Linked DNA regions of Homo sapiens. The protein of the gene in region 3 purifies or fractionates together with the protein of the main gene of each other region. This does not show direct contact. Each region holds a gene or a part of one and is shown on either strand. Other genes may lie near its edges.

Region 1 (4,025 bases), on a different chromosome or scaffold from region 3:
ACTATTAATTAACCTTGATGAATTAAAGGACTATAAGATTAAATAATGTTATGGTAAGAGAATAGAAGATCAATTAACGAGAAATATTATGACACTCAAACTACAGAACTATGACAAAACAGTAAATAGTGACCAATATCCCACTCTGATGGACAATAATTAGAAACAGTGTAACTCAATTTGCTCAAACACGCAAAATGATAGCAAAAAGTCACCAAATGGCTACTGTAATTACCAAAGGCCATAAATTATGAGTATGAAACACACTAAATAACATATCAAATTTTAATTTTGTTATTATAAGAAATATTAAAAACATCATCATCAAGGTCATCTTGATGACAGTTTAATTAAAAGTTCTCTCTGTATTTCATCACCATCTAAAGAAATCATTAAATCTAAATTCCATTTCTATTTGTCCAAATCACTTTATATTTACAGACCTTCCTTGAACTTTCCCACCATTTAAAATGAAAAAGTCTTGCACATACTTTTTACCAGGCAGATAGACATAATGTGAGAACTAATGATCTAATTATTCTTCTAACATATTTCCAATTTTCACTCAAAAGTAATATAAGGTTTTCCAATGTGTTACCAGGATAACACTGGAAAAGAAAAAATCATTTCACATGAAGAGCAATTCTCAGGAAGTAACATATTAGATAGATTAATTTGTTTTCTACTTTTATATAAAATAAAATAGGCACTTCTGGGAAGGCTCCTGAGATTATAAAGGATTTCACAAAAGATAACAAAAATGTACACAGAACTTTACAGCATCCTTAAATACTTTTTAGGACATTCTTAAATATTTTTTGGAACACAGAGGGACATAGATAATGTAAAACTAAAAAATTACGTTGAAAACCTGTGATCCTAACAAAAATGAAATTGTGCATTTAATTATAAGATGCATACGTATAAACAGCACCTACATTAAAGTTGGTTAACAGGATATATTTAACATATAATCAATTATTCTGAAAAGTTATGTTTTGGTACTAGTCATTTTAAAGATTAAAAAAATCAATGTACTAATGATACTAACAACTATTATTTATTGATTTTATTTTTTAATTCTTTTTTAGAGGAATGGTCTCACTGTGTTGCCCAGGCTAGAGTGCAGTGACTATTCACAGGTGTAATCACAGCATACTACAGCCCTGAACCCCTGGCCTTAAGCAAATACCCCATCTTAGCCTTCCAAGTAACTGGGATTATAAGTACATGCACTGCTACTGGCTTGATTTTATTTTAAACAAAAACAAAAACATTATTTTTACCTCCGTGGTTTTCCCATAAGCCGCCGAATTTTTCCCCATTCTACTCTTGTTAACTTTCTTGTTTTCAAATTAGGAAAAGATTCCTTTAGACATACACAGAAGTCATTATCACCTTCAAAAAGTGGTCTGTAAAACAGATATAGTATTTTAATGGTTACATACAATGTGTTACTTTCTTAAAACACATAAAATCACAAAATGCTAAACTTTCACTTCTACCCCATATATATATATAAACTGGCACAAATTCAAAGTGCTAAAACTAAATCCTTGGCATTTGTGAAACATCTAATGTCGTGTAAAAGTTGCTCAGGAAATATTATTTGTGTTGTGATTCCAAGAGACACTGATTTTTGTTCAATCTCTTATACAGGTATATCCTTTGGGAGGCTATCGTGGCCCTGGCCTTGTATCAGGTGAAGATAAACCAAGTTAGCTACAAAGTATCTTTGTCCCAAAGGAATACCATCACCAAGGAGTCCTCTTTGGAATTAAACCAGTCTTGGGACACTGGAGGACTCCAGAGGGTTAGATTAGCTTGGGGGATCCCAGAAGAACTCAGATTACACTGAGACACCCTGAAAACTCTCTTAAGCCTATGGACAAAAATAAAACAATTCTATTCATGAGTCTGGGAAACCAGGAACCAGTGTTGGCAATGATACATAAATGCCTTGGGCTCAAATATGAACATTCATGAGATTCACAAGCTCCAGAGTAGGCAATTGGTATAGAAAACAGAGAAGGGAAGAAAATATAAATATCCAGCAGAGCAAGCAGCAATGACTGGCATATGAGGAAGGATTATAAATAAGAACTTTTCCTCAGTAAATTCCATTGTTGAATAATTGTATTTCAGCCAAATCTCATACTACGTCATACTTAAGCATATGTGTATACCTAGCGTGCTTAAGTACCACATCCAAACTAGAAAGACTACCCTCTTAAAAATCTTAAGCCATTTTTACCATTAGTAATGGTTTCTCTATGATTATACCAGCACTTAACATCTCAATTATAAAATGAATCTCATTCACTGCAAATAATGGTGTTTTAAGGTATCTCTACTCCATAGTCTTTAAGAATTCTAACACAGAAATTATACCGTAATCAATTCTTCACAAAAATGTACAGTTTTCTTCCCCAAAAAGGATAACAGGGAAGAAAACTATGACAAATAGAATAGATCCAACTGGAATGTGGAACAGAAAAATGAATTTAGAGAAAAATAAGATCAAAGTAGACCTATAGAAAATGTTGTAGCTTAAAACACTTGAAAAACTTAAATTTCTGATTCAAGTAATATTCATAATATAAGCCATGATACATACTTATCTATATTTGAATAGAACCACTCGTATATACACCATTTATGTGCTTTAGGAAGCTTGAGCAGATTACGTAATCGAAAACCAATCTTCTGTGAAGCTTTCTTATCTGGTGTTGACATTGTTGCTGTAAATTTCTATACAATAAAAAAAAGAGATTAATTTATGGCTCCATTAAGTAAAAATGAACATTTATAACCCTGAATAAATTTGCAAAAGGTAAATTATGTTTAAGTACTTAAAAAGGTTCACTGATTCACTGATATTCAACATGGAATTTTGTTGCTGTTTTAAACACTCCGATTATTTTTGATTATTGCCTTTTTTTTTTTTGACAGTCTTGCTCTGTTGCCCAGGCTGGAATGCAGTGGCACAATCTCGGCTCACTGCAACCTCTGCCTCCCGGGTTCAAGCTACTCTCTTGTCTCAACCTCCCAAGTAGCTGGGACTACAGGCGCACGCCACCACACCCAGCTAATTTTTGTATTTTTAGTAGAGATGGGGTTTCACCATGTTGGCCAGGCTGGTCTCAAACTCCTGACCTCAGGTAATCTGCCTGCCTCAGCCTCCCAAAGTGCTGGGATTACTGGTGTGAGCCACAGCGCCCAGCTTAGATGGATACTTTTTTAACCTAATAAAACATTTCTCCCCACTCCAACCCAAAAACCAGTATCGTAATATTAAAAGACGATGAGAACGACAAATATTTCAACTACCACCACTAACCTAGTATGACAAAGATTTCAACTACCACCACTATTTCATAACACTGTTTTGAAGGAATTGGCCAATCAGGTAAGAAGAATAAAATTTAGAAAGAAGATAAAACTACCATTTCCTTGTAGGTGAAAACTCAAGAAAATCAACTGTAACAATTAAAAACAGTAAGAAAATTTAATGAAATGGGTAAATACAAAGTTGATATACAAAAACCATGATTCAAAAAAATCACTATATGTAAATAATAACTGGACAGGCCATAAGAGTTTATATCCTGTTTATAACAGCACAAAAATGGACATAAACAAAAAAATTAAATATGTAGGAATATACTTACGAAACATGCAAGACTGATATGGAAAAAAATTAAGTCTACTGTGAAATACTATGAACTAAGTGGAACTACAATCAGTTCTTAGGTAGTCTCAATGTTACCTATATATATCATTTCCCATAAATTATAATATTAGTCCAATCCCAGTCAAAATGCCAACAGGATTTTTTTTTCCTAGTCAAGTTGATTCTAAAGTCTACATGGAAAAATAAATGCACAAAAATATTTAGGAAAAAATCTTATGCTGGGCGCAGTGGCTCACGCCTGTAATCCCAGCACTTTGGGAGACCGAGATGGGCGGATCACAAGGTCAGGAGCTCCAGACAGCCAGGCCAATATAGTGAAACCCCATCTCTA
Region 2 (3,694 bases), on a different chromosome or scaffold from region 3:
AGGAGATGGAGCTGAGACAATGTTCCGGACCAACCCAAGAGCTGGATGCAGGAACTCTGTAACCAGGGGGCTCTGGGAGCAAAGGACCCTCTCCGGAAACCCCATATTGAGGGAAGGGACAGTCTTCCTGGCCAACTCCTCCTACTGGCGTGGTAGGCCCTGCCCCGATCTCTGGCCCTCACATTCTCCACTTGCAGATCCAGGGACGGGGCCCCCCAAGGCTTCCAGCCCTCCACCCCTTCCCACACAAGCACCATCTTCCTCCGCTTCTGCCCCTCTTTTCCAGTCTCCCCTAAAGAGCCTGTTCCCGGAGTATGACCCCCACAAGCTGCCCCTTTCTCAAGCTCAGGTACCTGCACGATGGTGTCCAGATTTTGCCGGGATGTGGAAACAGAGTTGATGACCGAGGAGGGGCCCATGGTGACGACATTGATGTGGTGGGAGGGAGGAGGAGGCGGTGCTGGCACGATCACCGTGGGGTGGTGGGTGGGGGCCGGAGGGGGCAGAAGCTGCAAGACAGAGGCCCTCAGCCTTTCTCTCAAGGCTTCTCTTGGCCCATCCACCTCCCTTTCATGCAGAGCTGGCCAATGTATAACTGCCTCTGCCCCTTTATATTAAGAAGCAGAGAGGACGTGGCCTAGGGAGAGGCTTCCGCCATTCAAGATCACCTGTCCCCTTCCCGGTCCCCAGAGCCCACTCCCGGGCGCCTCCTGCTCACCTGGGTCCGCAGCTGCTGCTGTTCCCGCTCCAGCTTCTCCTGGTGCAGCAGCCTCACCTGTTCCTGCTGCTGCTGCAGCTGCACCTGCTGCGCAATCACCTTGAGCTTTTCCGGGTACATGTGGGCCTCCAGCGAGCGCACCTGGAGGCAGGACAACCTGGGCTCAGGGCCAAGGCCGGGAGCACACCCTGCCCTGTCAGTCTCACAGCAGCTCATTCACTCCTGCTGAAAACCCTAGCACAGGGCGGGCCCCTCTCAACAGAGGCCAGAAGCCTTTCCAGAGCCCTTCAGCCCCCGGCTCCTCTCGCCTCCCACCTCGGCCTCCACTGGACCATGCTCCCTCCTGCCCGAGTCTTTGCCTATGCTATTCCCTCTGCCGGGAACACCTTTCTCTGTCCTTTGGTTAACTATGAGACTCAACTTCCCACTTCCATGGAGATGCCGTGGGGCGTCCCTTGAAAAACCCCTCCTGATGCCACAGCTCCAGCCTGGCCTTCAATATGGTTTTTTGTTTTTGTTTTTTGGTTTTTTTGAGCCATGGTCTCCTTCTGTCACTCAGGCTGCAGTGTAGTGGCACAATCATGGCTCACTGCAGCCTCCACCTCCTGGGCTCAAGCAATCCTCCCAGCTCAGCCTCCTGAGTAACCGGGACTACAGGCACACCCCACCACACCTGGCTAATTTTTGTATCTTTTTTGGTAGAGACAGAGTCTCACTATGCTTCCCAGGCTGATCTCAAACTCCTGGGCTCAAGCGATCCTCCCACCTCAGCCCCGCAAAGTGCTGGGATTATAGGTGTGAGCCACCATACCCAGCCCATCACGGTTACATTTTTTTTTTTTTGAGATGGAGTCTCGCTCTGTCTCCCAGACTGGAGTGCAGTGGCACGATCTCGGCTCACTGCAAGCTCTGCCTCCCAGGTTCACGCCATTCTCCTGCCTCAGCCTCCCAAACAGCGGGGACTACAGGCACCCACCACCACGCCCGGCTAATTTTTTTTTTTTTTGTATTTTTAGTAGAGACGGGGTTTCACCGTGTTAGCCAGGATGGTATCGATCTGCTGACCTCAGGTGATCCACCCGCCTCGGCCTCCCACAGCATGGTTACATTTTTGAGATCCTTTGGCTAATCTCCCCCACCCCAACGCAGACGGTGGCCCCCAAGGGCAGAGACGTGTCTGGCTTGCTCCCCACTCCTAGGCCTGGCACCGCAGTAGGTGCTCCTGTAAATAGGGCTCCACCGAGGGCCGCAGAGCAAGAGGCGCGACCCCAGGCTCCACGCCCTCTGCACCGCGCGCCGTGCCCAGCAGAGGGCGCTGCCTCACCTGCTCCTCCAGCATCATGCGCACCGAGCGCTCCTTGTCCAGCTGCTGCCGCAGCTCAATCATCTCCCGCCGCAGGTCCTCCGCCTTCTCGTCCTCCCAGATGTCCGGGGAGCCTATGCCTTCGTCCTTGTCCTCTGCCCGCCGTCGCTTGGGGGACGAGCCGCTCAGCTCCTGGGGACCCCAAGGAGTCGGTCAGTGTGCCTGACACCTCGGTACCACCACGGAGATTGGGGTTCCATCGCAGCCCCCCAAAGCTGCCCAACACAGGTGAATCTTCATTAGGGAGCCCCTTCTGCAAGTCCAACAAACCAGCCAAATGCCAGGAGAATGGGCTGCTTTACATAACAGTCACCTGGCTCCTTCCAGAGCCCACTCCACCGCACTTGACCGATGGGGAAACTGAGGCCGGGGCAGGAAAAAAAGTGCCTGGAAGTACTTGTCAGTGGGCAAGAAGGGGCCTGCAGCCACACCTGAGTCCCAGGCCCATGGCTGGGTCCAAGGCATGCCCATGCCAGGGAGAGGGAGCCATGAAGGACAGGGCGCACCTGGATGAAGCGCTTGAGCTGTGTGTTCTGCTGCAAGAGCCTGGTCTTCTCCTGCTCCAGGGAGAAGATGTACTCGGCTGTCTGCTGGAGAATGGCTGCCTGAGGGCGTGGAAAAGCCGAGAGTCAGGCTGGCAGTGTTTACCAGAGCTCACTTTCCTCTCCCAGCGGGAACCTGCCGGCTCCTCCAGGAAGCCCTCCCTGCTCTCACCCACCTTGCTGAGCTTCTCTCCGTCTGTGTGGGGGATGAGGGTCTTGAGGGACTGGAATCCCGCGTTGATGCTCTGCATGCGTCTCCGCTCGTTGCTGTTGGCGATCTCCCGCCGAATCCGCCGCTCCTGGTCCCGCTGAGTCTCGGGGGTTAGTGGAATGTTGGCAAGGCTGCCAGAGAGGACAGGGACAGGCTCGGCCAAGGCGCCCTCTTCATCATTCATCTCCAGAGGGCCCCAGTGGAAACTGCATCCCTCCCCTGCTGCAAAAGATGCCAGGCCACCCCCAGAGAGTGATGGAGGGGTGCTCTCTGGGACACCGGGGCGGACTGAATCAGCTGGCTGCGGGTAAGATAGTCCGCTCAGAACCCACCCCGGGCCAGGCACAGTAATCCCAGTTCTTTGGGAGGTCAAGGCCAAGGATCATTGAGCCTAAGAGTTTGAGATCAGCCTAGGCAACGTAGTGAGACCCTGTCTCTACAAAAAAATAAAATTAGCCAGGTGTGGTGGTGCATGCCTGTAGTCCCAGCTACTCAGGAGGCTGAAGTGGGAGGATCGCTTGAGCCCAGGAGTTGGAGGCTGCAGTGAGCTATGATCACGCCACTGCACTTCAGTCTGGGCAACAGAGCAAGACCTTGTCTCAACAACAACAACAAAAACCCATCCCCTCCCTGGCTTTCCTCACAGGGAGCAGTCTCTCCTCCGGAACAGAATTCCCAGTGTGTCTGAGCATCAAAACATCCAAGAGCTTAGAAACTATGCAGACGACGGGTGCTGGCCCCAGCGTCTGACTAGCAGGCCCGGTGGGGCCCAGAAACGTGCGTGGTGTGATTCTGATGCACGCGGGATGCAGACGACATTCAGGGACGCTGTCCCCGCTCCTGGAACACTTCTGAGTGAT
Region 3 (4,025 bases):
CTTGACAAGATAATGGTGTCGTTGACTTTGCTTTTTTCTTGTCCGTTGGACAAAATTGGCCAAGAATATAATTGGACTGTTATGACCAATAAAAACGAAGTTTAGGTCAAGTCTTGTCAGGATAGCCTGACTAAAAACATCTGGCTCCTTAATTTAAAATAGTTCAGACAACCAGATTCTTGCTGTGTTTTATGTTAGGTTAACACGCTGAACTTTAAGAAGCTGTAGACTGCAGTTTGTTGTTATGAGACCTACAGAATATAGAAAAAAGGGAACAATTAAGCACCCTTCATTTTTGAAAACAATGATGCTTTATGCGGATGCCAAGGTCAGTCAGTCTGGGAGAAGCAGCCATGTTCTTTCATTCACCCTTGGCAAGCGAATAGAAAAGAACGATTAAGAAAATTTTAACCTATAATATTAAAACTTTTCACTGTACACTAAACATAATAGCTCACTGGAAAAAGCCAATATTTAAATATATATATATATATATATATATATATATATATATATATTTGTCTAATAAAGATTACAACATTTTCAGCCAACTGGACAAATAGAGGCATTTACAGAAGCATTACCATTGTGGTGAAAGGTGTGTGTGTGTGTGTGTGTGTGTGTGTGTGTGTGTGTTTATTTACATTGATGAGGGGAATATAAAGGGAAAAATTACGCTAAAACAAAAGAAAAAGCAATCTTAAAATCACATTTTTCTATTAAAGTCCAGAAAGTCTCCCTTCTAGTTTCACAGTTTTATTCACAACTTTCATTAGTAAACCAAATTACTGTACAGTTACCAGGACTAAGTCAAAGGACTTTATATTGAAATAGCAGATAAATACAGTATTCCAAGAGTTTACAATTTTTAAATACATTGTTCAACATGGCTGCTAGAGTAAATTTTTTACCACGATACATCTTTAACATTAAAAAATTATATTAACTAATCTGACTTTTTGGGGGGCAATTTTGAATTAGGTAATCACGAGGTACAATAAAACAAAGAGTGACCCCAACATCCAGTTCTGATTCCAGTTAAAAATTCAGACTAAAGATATCACAATCTGTAAGAAAAGAAAGAATATGGATGGTATAAATGATGAATTATAACAAAGTGCAGTAATGAAAACAATGTGCAAACAATGCTGGAGATCATAAAATGGGAAAATATGGCAAAGGAAATTCTGAAAATCCATAAATAAATCAATTTTCAATAACTGGCTAGTTATGTTTCATTCTGCCTTAAATCTGGAAAACAATAGAAATTCCCTAAAAAGGCAACAGCAAGTTGCCCTTATACAACTCTTTACATTGTAATTTTGTTTTGTTTTGTTTTGTTTTGAAACAAGGTCTCACTCTGTAGCACAGTCTGGAGTGCAGTGGCGCAATCACAGCTCACTGCAGCCTCAACCTCCAGGGCTCAGGTGATCCTCCTACCTCAGCCTCCTGGGTAGCTGGGACTACAGGCACATGCCACCATGCCCGGCTAATTTTTTGTATTTTCTGTAGGGATGGGGTTTCCCCATGTTGCCCAGGCTGGTCTCAAACTCCTGGGCTCAAGCGAACTGCCTGCTTTGGCTTCTCAAAGTGTTGGTATCACAGGCATGCACCATTGCACACAGCCTAATTTGTTTATTTAAGCAGAATTGAGCAAACTTCTCAATTCAGCTCCCATGTGCTTTAATGAAAATTATGTCAACTTGAGTATATTTAAAAACTACATAAAATAACCACGTGGCAAGAAGACATCCTAAGTGGCCCCTTCACTGTGCAGGCCCAGCCTAGGCCTCCATCTCTCCTTTACCAATTCCCTTTGTCTTGCCTACAGTCCCCAGGACCTCCAGGCAATTTCCTCTCCTTCATCAGCAGTTGCCAGCAGTCATCCTGTGGGCTCTGCCAGCAAGCTGGCAGCAGGGTAGGATTCACACTCCTTGGCTTCTACCTCACAGTTACCACCAAAGGCCTTCCCAATTTAAAAAAGCAATTTTAGAAACTGAACCAGAGGAATAACCACGATGTACAAATGAAAAAGCATAGAGGGGCTTATAATGAGAAGTTGTGCTCCTCTGTCCTACCTTAACTCCATCTGAAATCCAGGCTCCCTATGATCAATCCCTTTGACTTTTCAGTTCTCTGGGTAGATGTATTTTTCTTTTTGAGATGGAGCCTCAGTGTTGCCCAGGCTGGAGTGCAGTGGCAGGATCTCAGCTCACTGCAACCTCCTCCTCCCAGGTTCAAATGATTCTCCTGCCTCAGCCTCCCCAGTAGCTGGGATTACAGGTGCCTGCCCCCAGGCCCAGCTAATTTTTGTATTTTTAGTAGAGACGAGGTTTTACCATGTTGGCCAGGCTGGTCTTGAACCCCTGACCTCAAGTGATTCACCCACCTCAGCCTCCCACAGTGTTAGGATTACAGGCATAAGCCACCACACCCGGCCTGGGTAGGTTTTTTTTTGTTTGTTTGTTTTCAGACGGAGTCTCACTCTTGTTGCCCAGGCTAGAGTGTAGTGGTGCGATCTGCAACCTCCGCCTCCAAGGTTCAAGTGATTCTCCTGTCTCAGCCTCCCAAGTAGCTGAGACTTATAAGCGTGCACCACCACACCTAGCTAATTTTTTTATTTTAGTGTAGACGGGGTTTCACGATGTTGGCCAGGCTGGTCTTGAACTCCTGACCTTAGGTGATCCGCCCGCCTCGGCCTTCCAAAGGGCTGGGATTACAGGCATGAGCCACTGCGCCCGGCCAGGGTAATTTCTTATACTGCTATTTCTTGTTTTATCAACTTTTGTTTAAGCCCTGCTATGGCAAGGAGAACCAAGCTCACTTAACCATTTCCCAACCTCCCTTTTTTGAGTCCAAGTTTTATTTCCCTATAATTTAAAAATTATATCATTCTATGCTTTGTCTATAGGGTGATTCTAAAAGTCGAAAACCAATGTCATTATTTTTATTATCTTTGAGACGGAGTTTTGCTCTTGTGGCCCAGGCTGGAGTGCAGTGGCGCGGTCTTGGTGCACTGCAACCTCCGTCTCCCAGGTTCAAGTGATTCTGTCTCAGCCTCCTGAGTAGCTGGGATTACAGGCATGTGCAACCACACCTGGCTAATTTTTGTACTTTTAGTAGAGACAGGGTTTCATCATGTTGGCCAGGCTGGTCTCGACTCCTGATCTCAGATGATCCACGTGCCTTGGCCTTCCAAAGTGTTGGTATTACAGATGTAAACCACCGTGCCCGGCCCAATGTCATTATTTACGTTACTACGAAAATGTAAATATTTTTCTCTGTAGCACCTAGTCCTTTGCTAACAGGGCCTTTTTTTTTTTTTTTTTTTTTGAGACAGGGTCTTGTTGTGTCTTCCAGGCTGGAGTGCAGTGGCATGAAGATGGCTCACTGCAGCGTCTACCTCATGGGCTCAATCCTCCCACCTCAGCCTCTGAAGCAGCTGGGACCACAGGTGTACATCACCATGCCTGGCTAATTTTTGTGTTTTGTAAAGATGGGGTTTCCTCATGTTGCCCAGGCTGGTCTAGAATTCCTGGGCTCAAGCATCCTCTTGCCTCAGCCTCTCAATGTGTTGGGATTACAGGCATGAGCCACCGTGCCCAGCTAACAGGGTACACTTACACAACTTTCTGTTTTTAGTGGCGTTTCTAATTGCCTTTCATTTTTATCCCTGACGTTCTTTGGCTTAATCATAGCCTTATGTTTTTCTGTCTTAAACAAATTATCTAATGTATGAGTCATTTTCTTGCTCTACTGAGCCTCTGGGGAGTGCTCCATTCTCCTGCTAGGATTTGGTCTGCTGACATTTTACAGCCTGCTGTATAAATGTCATCTTGGGTCAGAGTAATTCTCATTGCTTTCCTGAACCACTTGTTTTCTGAACTCAAATAAACAAAAATTTCTGGCCGGGCACGGTGGCTCACATCTGTAATCCCAGCACTTTGGGAGGCTGAGGCAGGCGGATCACGAGGTCTGCAGTTTGAGACCGGCTTGGTCAACATGGTGAAACCCCGTCTCTACTA
Region 4 (4,025 bases), on a different chromosome or scaffold from region 3:
CAAACATTTCAAAATCTGATACACTTCTGGTCCCAAGCATTTCAGATAAGAGATACTCAACCTGTACTATGTTTCTACCAAGGAAAAGAAAGAAAACCCTATTAAAAAAAGATTCAGAGATTATAAATTCTAACTGGAAATGCCTTTATAATAAATGACTGGCTTCACATTTTAAATCTCTTTGTATCACCTAAAACACAGCATAGCACTATGACTATCTATTGAATAAATTAAATTATAATGTTGATATCATCCTTCAGTTAAAGAAAATTATTTATTTTAAAATACTAAACCTGTATGTTGCTGTTCTCATTTGCCCGTCGCCTGCCTTCTACTCGGCTGATAGTTATAGTCTGACCGATAACATCAATTGCCCCAGGTAATCTCCTGTAACATAAAAATTGAATCAATTCAGTTTCACCTAATTAGATGCTTAAAAAATAATAAAAGCAGTGAGAAATAAAAACAAAATGTGTTTGCAATAAATTTTAAAATAAAACCAGATCACAATACACATTGAAAAATATCCCTGAGTTTAAGCTCACTACTTTGCATTGTCATAAAAATTTTTATTAATAAACAAGCTAGAACCAACATACCCAACAATGATCATAATGTTAAGTTTTAAGTCTCTGTAGAGCTCTTCTACACTTACTAGTTTTAGTAGTCTCCAAATAAATTTATCTTTGTGAAATTAAATAAGACAGCAAATGCTAGACAAATGGAAATTTTGGGACCACTACAATTGTAACACATACTACAGCTCTATTACAGAAACTTTAAATATTCCCCAAAAAGGCCTGAAAATAATGCTCATTTTAACATACACAAGATATTTTCCTTGTGATATATTCCAAGTGTTAAAAAACATAAAAAAGGAACCAGTTTGCCATTTCTGATAACTTGCATTTAGATAGAAAAATTCAAATATTTAAATACCCGCCTCACCTCTACAATCTTTTTAAAGTTTATAAGGATATGGAAAAATAGTCTATCATAAAACAATGCTATAAATTTAAGAGAAAAACCTAGTAAGTTGTATTTTAAATAAAATAATGTTAAAAGCTATTATGCAGATAAAGGACTTTACAAAAGTATGCATGCCTAAGATGATATAGAAGTCACTTGGAGAAATAGGCAATGAAAAGTGGATGCAAATTAGATGAATTTCTCTTCATCTATATTTCAGTTCTGAACAATACTGCCTTTAAAACTTTATAGAAGCAAAACAATTAAAATACCATAGATCCTTCCACAGTCACTAGATTAGGCTCCTAAAATGACAAATAACAGCAGCTACCATAGGTTGGATGCCAAACCCATTATATCTAAACTTCACAAAAACTGAAAAATTACTGTATACTTGTTAGAGACAAGCCATGGTCCAAAGTGAAATCACTGACACAAGCATGAATTAAATAGCAAAACTAACTTTCAAACCTGAGTCTTTCTAATCCCAAAGACTATAGACCTCCCCTCCCCTTGAGCTAGGTTTCCTTCCAGCAAGACCTTTGAGGAATTTAAGGCTTTTCTGGAAATCATGAGTTAGTAAGAGTTTATCTCAAGTAGACCTTGAAACACTCCACAAATTATTTTGTGCTAACAAAGACAGCCCTATAAAAAGCACATCATGACATCTGAAATGTTTTCAAGTACATAGTCAGTTCCCACTTACCATCCCTTGCCCACTTAAGACTTCCCTTCTCTATAACTTTAGTACAATTTAAAAATGTTCAAGCCTTTCTAATTTTATGCCTGAGTCACTGACTTCCTAGATTTCCTCATGATCCCAAAGATCATGAATGATTTCATTGGAGGATTAACATATCCTCCAATACAGCTGGGGAAAGATCTTAATATTCACATGTTACAAAAATCCAAATATCTCTACAATAAAACAAATATTGCTTCCATTTCTTCCCTATAATTTAAATTGCAAAGCTATGCCTACCATGACTGCATTATCAAAGCACATGCCATCAGCCCTCTGATATACAAACATTTCATATTCCAACATCCTACTAAATACAGGTGTGCATTCTGAGGCTGTAATTTCCTCTCTGTTAATTGCTGCCCTCCATTGTCAAAATTTTTATTTTCGCTCTATTTCCTTTTCTACTATTTTCTCTTGCCAATCACTGGACTCTCTCCTTTGCATTTTTAAATTTATTCCCATCAAGAACAAATTCTACCAAATTTGTTTGGACTTGCAAGTCAGATAGCAAATTCTCCAAATTGTTAAAAGTGGTAAAAATTAGATCTAGATATAACTTTCCTGTTGAGGGGAAAATTTTCTATAGCCTGTCTTTTACCATTTATTTCTGAGGATCTCTAGTTTTCAAAAAGTCTGGGACACATGGAAGTATTCACCTCTTAAAATGTACCTTAAATATGGTCAGAAGTCTAATTAGTTTTTTTCAACTTTAAATTGATTGTTTTTAATCACTAAAGATTCAAAATGGCAAATACTATGTTTCTAAAAACATATAACTGAGAAATCAGCCTTAACAAGTATATATCCCTAAAGGGAGTTCAGAAAATTACAATTCTCCACATTTTCAAAACATCTCCTTGTGCCCGTATTTTTTAACCACATAAACTGATTTACTTTAATCATATAAATTAAGCTTACCGTTTTGTTCCAAAATGTTTTATGATAAGACACACAGTATGTACCACAGCAACAAAAAGCACATAATATCTAACACTGACAAATAATTTAAAAATCTAATATTATTCTGATGCCACATTATGGAAAAAAATATTGAACCATATTATTCCACGAAAGTTCTTAATGGACAGCTTTTTCTTTCATTGCTTAAGAAGATTTAATAGAGTTTCCCTATGAGGAAATCTACTGTAACTTAAGAGTTCCCCAAAGCGTAGGTTTGATTAGGCCAACAAACTTGTTCAGTAAGGTAGACAGCTAATGCTATTATCAAAATCCTCTTCTCCATATTGGACTCAACCATCTAGTAAAAAGCTAAGAAACTAACCACTCTGGGTGTCTGAGTTAATGTACAGTTTAAACAGGCAGTAAATGTTCCCAAGAGCCTCTACCTCCCCTCCTGGCACAGTAAATGAATATAAAAATATCTCTGAAGTTACAATGGAATTAAATTATCATATTTTGATGATTCTGATATCCCAGAAAGAATCTGAGGGCTCCCTGCAGAGATGCAACAGAAAGTTTAAGATGACAAATCAGGGCTAATAGAAGATAGACAAAAGGCCATAAATTGATCTCTGAAGGTCAGGCTCACGCATGTAATGCCAACACTTTGGGAGCCTGAGGCGGGAGGATTACTTAAGCCCAGGAATTCAAGACCAGCCTGGGCAACATGGCGAGACTTTGTGTCTACAAATAATTTAAAATATCAGCTAGGCATAGTAGCACATGCTTGTGGTCCCAGCTATTCAGAGGGCTTAGGTGAGAGGATTGCTTGAGTCCAGGAGATGAAGGATGCAGTAAACTGTGATTGTGCCACTGCACTCCAGACTGGGCAACAAAACAAGAGCCTGTCTCAAAAAAAAAATATATATATATACATATATATATATCTCAGCTGCTTTTTCTTGGAAGCCAAAGCAAAGGACATCATTAACAACAAATGTCTTTAATGTGCATTAAGATTAAAACAAAGCATTTGCTCTAAGATTGTTTTCCTGGTAATGACAGCTAGTATTTATGGAGCACCTACTATGCGCAAGGTAAGCACTGTTCTAAATACTTTATATATATTTAGTCTTCATGATAAACCCATAAGGTAGCAACTCTCATTATTGTCATTTTACAAATGAGAATAAACAGAAAAAGATTCTCCTCTGAGTCTAAGAGAAAATATGAGTACAATAGTTTTTAAACTTTATTGACTACAAAACACAGTAAGAAGTACACTTTACACAGCAATCCAGTACCCACAATACATTAAAAACTAAAAAAGATTCATGAAACAATACTTAAAAAAGGAAAAATGGTGACACTAAGATAAAATGTAATTTTATTAATATTTAAATATAGCATA

The links. Proteins that work in one complex are often made in the same cells at the same time.
Region 1: the proteins of BPTF (region 3) and LIN9 purify together in Homo sapiens (affinity purification with mass spectrometry, with the first as the bait; one large-scale study listed by BioGRID). This does not show direct contact.
Region 2: the proteins of BPTF (region 3) and TFAP4 fractionate together in Homo sapiens (co-fractionation; one large-scale study listed by BioGRID). This does not show direct contact.
Region 4: the proteins of BPTF (region 3) and FIP1L1 fractionate together in Homo sapiens (co-fractionation; one large-scale study listed by BioGRID). This does not show direct contact.

Annotation. Positions count from the first base shown.
Region 1 is NC_000001.11:226,285,047-226,289,071, forward strand, and holds part of LIN9 (protein lin-9 homolog), read right to left. Parts: intron 2,752-4,025; coding exon 2,618-2,751; intron 1,413-2,617; coding exon 1,287-1,412; intron 1-1,286. UniProt on the Homo sapiens protein: Acts as a tumor suppressor. Inhibits DNA synthesis. Its ability to inhibit oncogenic transformation is mediated through its association with RB1. Plays a role in the expression of genes required for the G1/S transition.
Region 2 is NC_000016.10:4,259,737-4,263,430, forward strand, and holds part of TFAP4 (transcription factor AP-4), read right to left. Parts: intron 2,966-3,694; coding exon 2,800-2,965; intron 2,687-2,799; coding exon 2,588-2,686; intron 2,214-2,587; coding exon 2,043-2,213; intron 860-2,042; coding exon 719-859; intron 510-718; coding exon 354-509; intron 1-353.
Region 3 is NC_000017.11:67,978,478-67,982,502, reverse strand, and holds part of BPTF (nucleosome-remodeling factor subunit BPTF), read right to left. Parts: intron 1,068-4,025; coding exon of another isoform or gene 1,061-1,067; exon of another isoform or gene 252-1,060; coding exon 215-251; 3' UTR 1-214. UniProt on the Homo sapiens protein: Regulatory subunit of the ATP-dependent NURF-1 and NURF-5 ISWI chromatin remodeling complexes, which form ordered nucleosome arrays on chromatin and facilitate access to DNA during DNA-templated processes such as DNA replication, transcription, and repair.
Region 4 is NC_000004.12:53,422,234-53,426,258, reverse strand, and holds part of FIP1L1 (pre-mRNA 3'-end-processing factor FIP1), read right to left. Parts: intron 388-4,025; coding exon 294-387; intron 1-293.